Regions from separate parts of the Homo sapiens genome. Here region 1 is linked to region 2. A link means that fine-mapping ties the variant in region 2 to the expression of a gene that starts in the linked region. Tissue or cell type: esophagus mucosa. Region 2 holds a variant in brackets; the other region holds the start of a gene. All regions are shown on one strand. Distances are between the middles of the regions. Region 1 holds the start of SNX5 (sorting nexin 5). Region 2 has its middle 30 kb from the start of SNORD17.

Evidence for each region.
Region 1: SNX5 starts here. The variant in region 2 is fine-mapped to the expression of SNX5 in esophagus mucosa (GTEx, PIP above 0.99).

The regions. Positions count from the first base shown.
Region 1 is chr20:17,966,551-17,971,920 of GRCh38, reverse strand. It overlaps SNX5 (sorting nexin 5), which reads left to right and starts at 3,127. Exons shown (of 13, transcript NM_014426.4): 1 at 3,127-3,546. The coding sequence starts at 3,496. MGME1 (mitochondrial genome maintenance exonuclease 1) reads right to left here and starts at 2,903. Exons shown (of 5, transcript NM_052865.4): 1 at 2,780-2,903; 2 at 1,551-2,120. The coding sequence starts at 2,061. RefSeq lists enhancers at 1,909-2,038, 2,059-2,258, 1,198-2,397, 2,979-3,288, 2,905-3,659 and 3 more and a silencer at 3,289-3,498.
Region 2 is chr20:17,930,460-17,935,833 of GRCh38, reverse strand. No RefSeq gene overlaps it. Among named protein-coding and RNA genes, the nearest start is that of SNORD17, 30 kb to the left of the region's middle. RefSeq lists a silencer at 4,112-4,312. The variant A/G (reference allele first, on the strand shown) is at 3,192.

The sequences.
Region 1 (5,370 bases), 36 kb before region 2:
CTACAAAAAATAAAAAAATTAGCCAGGCATGGTGGTGCACGCCTGTGGTCCCAGCTACTCAGCAGGCTGAGATGGGAGAATCACTTGGGTCCCGGCGGTCAAGTCTGGGCGGGGTGCTGGGGTAAGCGATTCTGCTCATTTCTTAAGGTTGCTACTGAGTTAACTGAGAAACACAGCTGAGTGCTAATCTAGATCAACAAAGCTGACTCTATGAAAAAAAAAACAACCAGTCTTCTCTCTGCCTGGGCTATTGGGGCTCATTCACATTCCAAACAGAAATTCCTCTCTGGTGCACTTCCTTACTTTGTGCCAAGAGCTACAGGCCCTGGGGTCCCATGTGTTCCAGCAGGTTTCTGCCTTTTAATAATACATTTCTTATTAGTAATTTCAGCTGTACATTCCTGGTTTAAGGAAAATAACTTCTCATGAGAAAACTATCAATTCTAAATTTTAGTGGTACAAATACAAAACTGTAAGATGCCATTAGAAGATTTTTATGTTGCTTGCTTGGAAAGCAGACAATAGTTTGGTGGTTGCTACTAATTAACTATCTTAGGAAGGCAGTTAGCTCTTGCATATATAATCCTTGCCCCACACAGCTGAGGAATATTATAAGGAGCAAAGGCCTTGACCATTTGGTACATATCCAATACCACCTATATATACTTAGTATTTTTCTTTAGAACATGTGACATGTTTAATGTGTTACACGCATAGTTTTAGGAGTCTGGATTAGGGAAAAGACGACTTAAATAGAAGCCCAGGCTATGGCAAGGGTCAGTACACTATTCTTAAAACAAAAATGAAAGAGTTTGTGTACTACTAAGAGTACATGTACTGCACTTTGGGAAGCTTGGGTAAAGGAATGATTGATGTGAAACTTTCCTTTAACAAAAGACCCCTATATAATTTATGGGACTAGCTAATTCACCAGTGCCAATGGTCTTTGTTTTTGAATGGAATATTAAATTTAAGGAAGCTATTCTCCTCACTTGTCCAAGTTAGTAAATTAGAAGTTGAAGGTTAAAGTGTATTTATCCTCAGATCCTTATGAAGAACCTCTGATTATGTTTACCAAGGTCTAAATATAGGTCATGTGTTCTGGTCTGCTTCAAGGTCTTTAAATTTACGAGTCAGTTTACGCTAATAAGTAGGACAGTGGGTATTTACTGGATTCTAAACAGAATTATCTAGCAAACAACTAGAATTCTGTTACCAGGTGACTTTTTTCAATAATCAAGGAAAACAAGCAATTCTAATATTGTTGGTAGCTTATAAAACAAGTGAATTTTATGTATTATTTAGTCAAATATTTGATCTATTTTAGTTTCATCTGTAAAATGTGGATAACAGTATCTATACTCCACAGGACTACCATGAGGATCAAGTGAGTTAATACACATAAAGTGCTATTTAATGTTAATTACTATCTGAAGGGAGTTCCTTGCTAGTAAGTTAAAAAAACAAAACCAAACCTCATTCTTTTGACACCGTTGCTCTCTATTATAGAAAACATAGCAAACATATAGAATCAGAATTGAGATAATTACTTGAAGTGTATTCTTTAAAGCCATCTTCTCCCAGTTCCAGAATCATCCGCTGTTTCCACCTCTCCAACAAGAAAACCTGTTGTTTTGTCATGGTCTGCTGAAGGACTCGGGTCACACTTGGTATCACATTCCTTTGCAAGGGGATTTTCAAAGGAACTGAAGGATCACTTGCATTTGGTTTATCACTTCTCTCTGGATTGAAGATAGGAAACCAGTTTTGTGGCACTCGTCTGTCCTCACCTTGGTTTGGCAGCTTATGCTTGCTCACGGGTCCACAGAGCAAAGCATCTTCCTCCACCGATCCCGGGGTCTGGGCGACGCCTCTGGATGACAAGACAGACTGAACTAAATTAGAGTATTTTTCTTGGTCCACTTCTTCATATGGGTTCACTTTTTTCTTCCGGCCACATGAGTAAGAGGAAGTAGAGAAAGCCACAAGGGCAGCTGATTCCACAGAAAACTTTGAACTCCTGAGCTGCCTGCAAATGGTCTGAAATAACTTCATCTTCATTCAGATTTGTTTTCACTTTAGTCTATTTGCAACGGTCGAAGGCCTTTATGTTTGTATTCCTATTGGAGAGAAAACAACCATCAAAGCGAAAGCTGCATCAGAATGATATTGCACATCAAAATTGTGAACTTTTTCGACATGTTTGGACAGAGCCCTTTCTTAAGAAAGTCGACAGAGCGAGACCCTGCCTCCAAAAAAAATTTATAAATAAATCAAGACTCAATACCCGAAGGACCGACACATACTAAATGCGAATTAGTAGACAGCTTGAGGCAAGACGTCCCAGTTTCTAATCTGCAGGAATGTGACGCCCAGGAAGGGAGGCGTGTGCGAGACACGGAAAAACACAAAGATGGAGCCCGTCCCATGGCGGCCACACAGTCCTAGGTGACAGACGACGACTAATTCCTAGACACCAGGCTCTCTGCTAAGTATTCTGTGTGGATACTTCTCATTTGGTCCTCACACCCTCTACCGTGGGTCTAGAATGAACCCGTTGCACAGACGTGGAAATCGGGTTGGAGGGTCCCGTCGCTCGCCGGTCAGAGCTGGTGGCGGCGCTGAGGTCCCATTACTGTGACCGCAAAAAGTCGCCTCCCGCTCCGCCGTGGGTGCGGACCCCTGGCGGGGCCAGGACGGCGGTGGCCCCTGTGGCAGGAGTCTGGATTAGAGAAAAGACGACTTAAATAAAAGCCCAGCCTACGGCAAGTGTCGGTACCTTGGAAGCCACCACACTTCGCTTAACTCTCAAGGCGCGAACAACCTCTCGCGACCCGTACTTTCATCCGTCCCGCGCTTTGGTTTCGAATTAGGCACAGCCTAAGGCAAAGCAGGTCCAGAATGCCCCGCGGCGCTCACGCCCCACCCGAGGCTTTCGTCGGCCTCCGCCAACGCGCCACCAGTTAGAGGCAGGGAGTACCTCTCCGAGCGGAAGGGCCGGCGTCTCCGAAGCGCGGGAGCCTCCAAATCGCGCCCTTCTGCTCTCACGAGATCTGGTGACGTCAGCGCTCGCTGCCATCTTGGACTCGGGCTGAGTAATAAATTCCCCCCGCACCGAAACGCGGTCTTTCTCTAGACGCGTCTTGCTGGGAGAGTGTCCGTTGCTTCCCGTCCGTGTCGCGGCCCTGCGGTTGGCGGCCTCCTCGTGGAGCGGAGCAAGGGTAGGCCCCACGTGGCGTCTTTGCCCGGCTCCAAGATGGACGGCAGCGGGGACTGGGAGGCTGCTCTGGGGGAGCACGTGGCGCCCTGCTCGCCTGCTCCCGGGGCAGCTGGGATGGTGGCGGAGTCCGGAGGCCTCCTGCCGCCGTCGGGCAGGGAGGCCGGCGGAGGCGGGGCCGTGGCCGCCCCCGAGAGGCGCCCAGGCGGCGGCGGCGGCGGCCCAGCTTCTTCTTTCCTCGCACAGCCAGGCGGCCCCTGCTCGAGTCCCGCGTCGCCATGGCCGCGGTTCCCGAGTTGCTGCAGCAGCAGGAGGAGGACCGCAGCAAGGTGAGGTCCTCCCAGCCTCAGACTCCTGGGCGGGCGGCCCTGCGAGCTCCGGGGTCGCTGCATTCTTTCCCTTGCGCGTCCATAGGCCGTGGCTGCTCGCCGCCATCCCCAGCGCGGGAAGCACCCGTGAGACCCGGGCGGCCCCTCTCCCTGGTCTTCACTGAAGGCTGCCCCGGGGAATCCCTGTGGATGTCCCGGATTCTATTAGGACAGAACCAGAGACGCGGGACCTTAGCCCCAGCTCAGGCGCCGGTGCCGAGCGGACTTGGAGAGATGATCTCTGGAGACCCCGGAATGTTCTTTTTAAAACTTTCCTCGGCTTCGTGGTGACCAGTAGGTGAACGTGAAATTGACTTAACATGCGACAGACCAGTTTGGTTTGTTGCCCCCAAAATACCCTCCTTCCCCCCACCTTTTACTGAGAAGACTTTTTTGGGGGGGGGGCCCAAACAACTTGGGAAATTGCATCAAGCGTCCGAACATGCTGCTTACAACTTTAGAAACGCAAAATGCGTTGTTGTGGGAGTTGTGTAATTTTTAGTAGGTGCTCAAATACTTGCTGAACTTGGTGTCTATTTTTAAGTCTTGCCCATTGATGTAAACTGTCCCTAGGTCACGTGTATCTTGAGGTCTAAAAGATTATTTATGCAATAAATTGAAATTCCCATAGCCAATTAAAGATTCAGACGAGCCTCCACTCTTTTTCATTGGTTCTTTAAATTTGCCTCGGTAGCTTTGCGATGCATGGTTTGCGAGCAACCTTTCTTGCAGAATCGTCAACGTAAGTTTTTCTGACCGATGAAAAAGAACCTCTAAAAATACAAGGCTCTCTTAAAATGTAATTTGGAGCCGTCTTAACTTACACATTTCTTGAGAAGTTAAAGGCACCTCCATAGAGAAACTTGTTCATCTAGTAAGTAAATACCAGAGTTTCAAAGCGGCTGGATTGTTCCAACAAGGGTATCATTGCATTAATTATTAAAATAGAGCTTTCTATACAGGAGGGTGTTGTTTAGAGTGGTTTTTTTTTTGAAAGTTCTTTATTACTAAAACAAAGTGGAAACTTGAGACCACGATTCTTTGTAAAACATTATAAAGGTACTTTTCTCCATAAAGGGTAGATAATGGATTGGGATTTTGGTAGCATTTTATTTTTTCTTTCTTTCTGGTACATTCTTTTAGCTGTCTTGATTCGGAGTCAGCTAGGTAAAAGGACTCAATTGCTTCACCCCACTCTCTGGTAGTACAGTATATTGCAGCTGGTTTTTAAAATGACTTCCACCACCCTGATCCTCCAGCAAAATTGGAGAATGGTTATGAAGGCCATTTCCTGCCTGTTTTAGAGGCTACAGAAACTGTCCGTATCTGTAGCGAAGAGAGTTACATGACATTGTTTTCCTTTTTACATTACAGGAATAAAGAGACAATAAAAATAAATAATTACCCTGACGCGTGGCTTTATTTTTGTTTTCTGATCTCTGCTGATGCTGATAACCTGCTGTGGTCTGGCCTAGATGGTGTTATGGTTAACTGAAAGGGAGTTTGGGGCAAGTATGAAATAATGGGAAACTAAGTCTTGGGCAACTTTTTGCCATAATACAATTTCGGTAGTCAACTGAAATGTTTTGTGTGTTACCTGAAATGTGTGTTACTTAAATTGTTTAAATGCCCTCCTGATAATTTACTTTGGTTTGGAATTCTCCCTAAGGATGGAGTTAATTAAGACTCACTAAGGTAGGGGGACATACTTGATTCTTCAGGATTTTGAATTCTAGCCCAATACTCATTTTGGCCAATTCAGCAAAACTGAAAGGGAATACTGTG
Region 2 (5,374 bases):
TGATTATTTAAAATTCGGATTTCACTGGGTGTCCTGTATTTTTATCTGCCAAGTATGGCAATTCTCTCTTTTGTAAAAATTATTTTAATTTTTTATTTTTTACAGAGACAGGGTCTACCTGTATTGCCCAGGCTGGTCTCGAACTCCTGAGCTCAAGGGTTCCTCTCACCTCGGCCTCCCAAAGTGCTGGGATTGCAGGCGTGAGCCACTGCGCCCAGCCAAGTCTGGCACTTCTCTATTAAGCACCTGGAATGTGGCTGGTGCAATTGAGGAAGCTAAGTTTTTATTTTGCTTAATTTTAATTAATTTCTGTTTAAATAGTCACATGAGCCTAGGGGCTACTGTATTAGACAGTTGCCCCCGCAAGACACTCACATCTTCCTAGCTGAAGCCCCAGATGTTATGTAACAGAGACGAGTCATTCCCACTAAGGCCTGTCCAGACTCTAGCCTCCCAGAAGCCCAAGCACAATAAAATGGTGGTGGTTTTATTGTGGTTGTTTCCTGCATGAAATGTGGGGTGGTTTGTGATCTGCAAGTGTAGCTGAGCTCCCCTGACCTCTGTGAACTTCCCTCCTGTGCCATCCCTCTCCTTCATCCCCATCCAGCCACACCTGTTCCAGGACACCCCAGGCTCTCCTGCGCAGGCCCTCTGTTCCAGTTGTCCCTGTGCTTGGGATGTTCCCACCCAACCCTCCCCACCCCCCACCAAAGATTCTGATATCAATAGTACAGGGTACAGCCTAAGTATTGGAGGTTTAACATGTCTTCACCTGGTGGTCCTGATGTACAGCTAGGGTTGAGAACCAACCACTTGTTTAGTTCAGTCACAGTTACATCCTGTGAGCCGGGGCTGTTTTACAGATGAGGAGAATGAGACTCCAGGAGATTCAGCCAGGCCCCAGAGTCAGAGGGTGAGAAATGGTGCATCCCGGTAAAATGTTGGGTCCTCCCCCTACTGTGCAAGGACAGGTTTGACCTGAAGGCAGAAGCCTGGGCTGAGGCCCCTGAACTTTGGAGGGGCCCTCAATCCCCCAGGAGGTAGCCGGCGACCTCCCCTGGCCTTCCTCCCCCATGGCTGGGCCTCTTTCCTTAGCTAATCAGGCTGATGAAAGGCCCTGCTGCCTGCCCACTCCCTCTCTGTAATTTGCTCGTCCTTCTCTCTAATTTTATAGCCTCCTCAGCAGTTTCCCAAAGATCGGGGGCTCAGTTTCCACTGGACCCCCCTCCCTGGCTTAATGAAAGGGGCTGCTTTGCAGCCACTGACTAGCTAAGGGTGGGGATCATTCTTAAAGCCCTAGGGGATGGGAAGATGTGTTGGCAAATGTTTTAGAGCAGGGGCCAACAACCCCTTTTGTCCGCCAAGTGCTATCCTAAGTCCCTTTTTAGCCACTTCTTGAGAAAGGCCCTTACAAGAAGAAGCGGGCGGGAGGCGGCGAGGCCGACTGCTGGGTGTGGAATGTCCGGCTCTGGGTGGTAGCCTCCTTGTATTATTGCCTTATGTTGCGGTTTAACTGCTCTTGCTCATTTTCCTCGGGGTCTTATTTCCCCGGCTGGATTGCAGCTCCCTTAGGGTAAAGACTCTGTGATGTGTTTGAATCACCCAGGCCTCCCAGGGTTCTGCCTCTGTCTCACTCCCTGGCACCGGTGACCATGGCCAAGCTCCTGAAGCTCATCCCTTTCCACGTTGGTAAAATGGGAGGGGGGTTACTCTGAGCACAAAAGGAGAGTCCAGTTAGTGAAGGGGCTGCCACCCCTGCCTGCCCCGGAGAGGTGTTTGGAATACCGGTCCTATCTCAGGGGAGAGTCGTAGTTGCCACTAGGAGGAGGGGCTGTGAGCGCTGAGGTAGGCCATGCACAGCCTCAGTGAATGCTTAATGAACATGACCTTGGTGTTCTCTTATGGGCCCCTGCCCATCTCCTGGCTGCAGCTATGCACACAGTAGACTTTCAGTCTATGCTGTCTGTGCCTTTGCATGCAGAGCCATTGGTCTGGGGACTAATTCTAGGGGTTTCATTTCTGTAAAAGAGCTCCTGTCTTTGGGCTTCCATGGTGTAGCCAGGCTGGGCTAGCAGCTCTCCTGCGGCAGTGCAGAGCCTGCTCTCCTGGCTCTGGCTGGGGCTGGCCCTTTGCTCAAGTGCCTCTGGGGGCAAAGTCGTTAGCCAGGTGGGCTTGGAAAATTCAATACCCAGCCTGAAGATGGAGGGTCCTCCCCTTCTCATGGGTCTCCTCTGCTGAAATGCCTCCCTAGAGTCACCCTTTGCTCTCCATCCCCTCCCCTGGGATCAGCAGTGCTGTTCTCAGTTTTCCTCAGGGCCCTGGACCCCCAAAGTCACCTGCAGTTCCTTCCTGCACACCCAGTGGCATCCTACATCAGGACCTGCCTGCCTCTCTTCTCAAGGGCACCCCTGATGGCAGGGGCACACTCCACCAAGCTGGGAATGCCCAGAGTTAGCACACACTCCTACTGGGGCTTCCTGGGGCCATCCCCCCACAAAATGCTTCTGCTTGAATCTTCCTTTTGGGTCAGCTCTTGGGGAAAGCTGGGCTAAGGCAACATTACCAAGCAGTCACACGTGAATTCCAGGGACTCTTGCTCTGTGGTTTTCATCCCAAGTTGCAGAGGATTTCCCCTGAGTGCCCAGGAGGGCAGGAGGGCTTCTGACCAGGGCAGGAGGTGCCATGGGAGATGGCTGGGTGAGGCCAGCCAGAGGCTGCGGGGGACCCTCCCCCTCACCCCTCTTCCTCAGCCTTCCTGACGCTCTGAGAGTTGAGGGGACCCCTGGCCAAGGTCTAACAGCCCCTGATGTTTTCTTTCCTTTGGTAGCTTTGCATGAAATGATGAAAGTCTATTTAATGAGGTGCTGGGATTGTCAGAGGCTTCTCACTGTTGAGAAGTTTTTTTTGTCTCCCTGTTAGGGACTGTTCAGGTCTCAATGCAAGTTAGGAGAAGAAAAGGCTCAGACCAGGGATCCCTGATGCCTGGCCCAGCTCTTGGTGGTGGGAGGAGGTGCCTCTGTCCAATGGCCTGAGGGAGCACCAGGCAAGATGTGCCACAAGATACCTGTGTCCCTACACCTGCACTAGTCTCTCCGCCTCAGTTATCTCACCTGAGAAACAGGGCTGGAGAGTGGGGTCTGCAGACCCCATTAGTGGGTTGCAGGAAAGGAGGAAGTCCCTTTACACTCTAG[A/G]GGGTTATTCAAGTGCAGTGACCACTGTCATTCAGGGATTGAGGGCCCAGAGCCAGGCGGGCAGCTGGGAGGTGCCCAGAATACGTCTTCTTAGTGAGAGCGCTGTGGCCAGCTGGATGGGAGCCCCTAAGGCAAAAGATGAACTTGTTTATTCCACAAATATCTGAACCCCTACCAGGTGCTGGGCGCTAATAGTGGTAGACAAAATAGAGAATCTCCTTGCCCCCATGACACTCATATTCCATGGTGTGTGTGTTGGGGGAAGAGAGACAATAAACAAATAAGCAAGTAAATACATAAAGAAGCGAGGTGGTAAGTGCTATGGCAAGATATATACGAAGGAGAGTGATGGGAGAGGGGCTTTTTATATGGACTGGCCAGGGGAGACCTCACTGAGCAGAGACCTGAAGGCAGTGAGAGAGAAAAGGCCCATGGAGTTTGCAGGGAGTGGGGTTTCAGGCAGAGCAAAGAGCAAGGGCAAAGGTCATAAGTTAGGGGCATGTTTAGTGTGTTTGTCAGCTGTTGTTAGCTACATAACAAACTACCCCCAAACTGTTTATTTTATTTATTTATTTATTTTTGAGAAGGAGTCTTGCTCTGTCGCCCAGGCTGGAGTGCAGTGGCATGATCTCGGCTAGCTGCAAGCTCTGCCTCCCGGGTTCACACCATTCCCGCCTCAGCCTCCTGAGTAGCTGGGACTACAGGTGCCCACTACCACACCCGGCTAATTTTTTTTTTTGTATTTTTAATTTTAGTAGAGATGGGGTTTCACCATTCACAGGATGGTCTTGATCTCCTGACCTCATGATCCACCCACCTTGGCCTCCCAGAGTGCTGGGATTACAGGTGTGAGCCACTGCACCCAGCCCAAACTATTTATTTCTAATGGCTGTGCTCAGCTGGGCAGTTCTTCTGGTAGCTGGGCTCACTCAGTTGTCAGAGGTCAACTTCCAGGTCTGCTGGGGCCAGCTGGCTGGCTCAGAATGGGGTCAACTGAGATAGCTTGTCTTAGTTCTGTGTGGGCTCTCATCCTCCAGTGGGCTAGCCCAGGCTGTTCTCATGGCAGCTGGGCGGGGTTCCAAGAGAGTGAGTAGAAGCTGCAAGGCCCTTGAGGTCCACTTGGAACAAGCACACCATCCCTTCTCCTGCATTTCACTAACCAAAACAACTTACAAGGGCAGCCTAGATTCAGGGGGAGGGAAAACAAACTCTATCTTTTGATGGGAGAAGTGGCAAAGATTACAGCCACTTTTGCCATTTACTATATAATCCCCCATTTTGGGGGGGTGAGAAACCAGGCCTCAGAGAGGCAAAGGCACAAGCCACTTGCCCAAGACCACACACTGCTGAGATTCACATCCATGCCTATGGGTTTACCTTCATGATTTGTGCCTTTTCCAGTATTGACTGTCTTTTGTTTATCCATTAAGTTTCTTAAATTGATTTTTTAATTTCCCCAAAATTACATGTTAAGGTAGAAAATACAGAAAAGCAAATAAATCACTGCAATGGCAAGACCCAGAGGTGATGTGCCAAAGCAACCCTTCAGGCTTGTTTCCCACACGCACATGTGACTCCATACCCCAGCTACACACACACACACACACACACACACACACTCAAATACTTTCTCAGGTGGTGTCTTTATCTCATGTGAAAATAAAGAAAAAGTGGCCACAGGCTTGGTGCCATGTCTCACACCTGTAGTCACAGCATTTTGGGAGGCTGAGGCAGGAGGATAGCTTGAGGCCAGGAGTTCAAGCTCAGCCTGGGCAGCATGGAGAGACTCCATCTCAAAAAAAAAAAAAAAAAAAAGAACAGCGGCCACAGGGAGATTTCATCTCTAGGAGGGTCAGATAATTTGGAGATATTTATGTTTTTAAAATCACGCAGCCTGGGCAACATAGGGAGACCCTGTCTCTACCAAAAAATAAAAAAATTAGCTGGGCATGGTGGTGTGTGCCTGTGGTCCCAGCTACTTGGGAGGCTGAGGTGGGAGGATCATCTGAGCCCAGAAAATCAAGGCTGCAGTGAGCTAGTGATTGCACCATTGCACTCCAGCCTGGGTGACAGAGCAAGACCCTGCCTCAAATAAAATAAAATAACAAATAATCAGAACGGGCCTGTGGAATAGTGACTAAATGCCAGTAGCATTTTGGGGTCCAGGTTTAGATGAGTCTTCA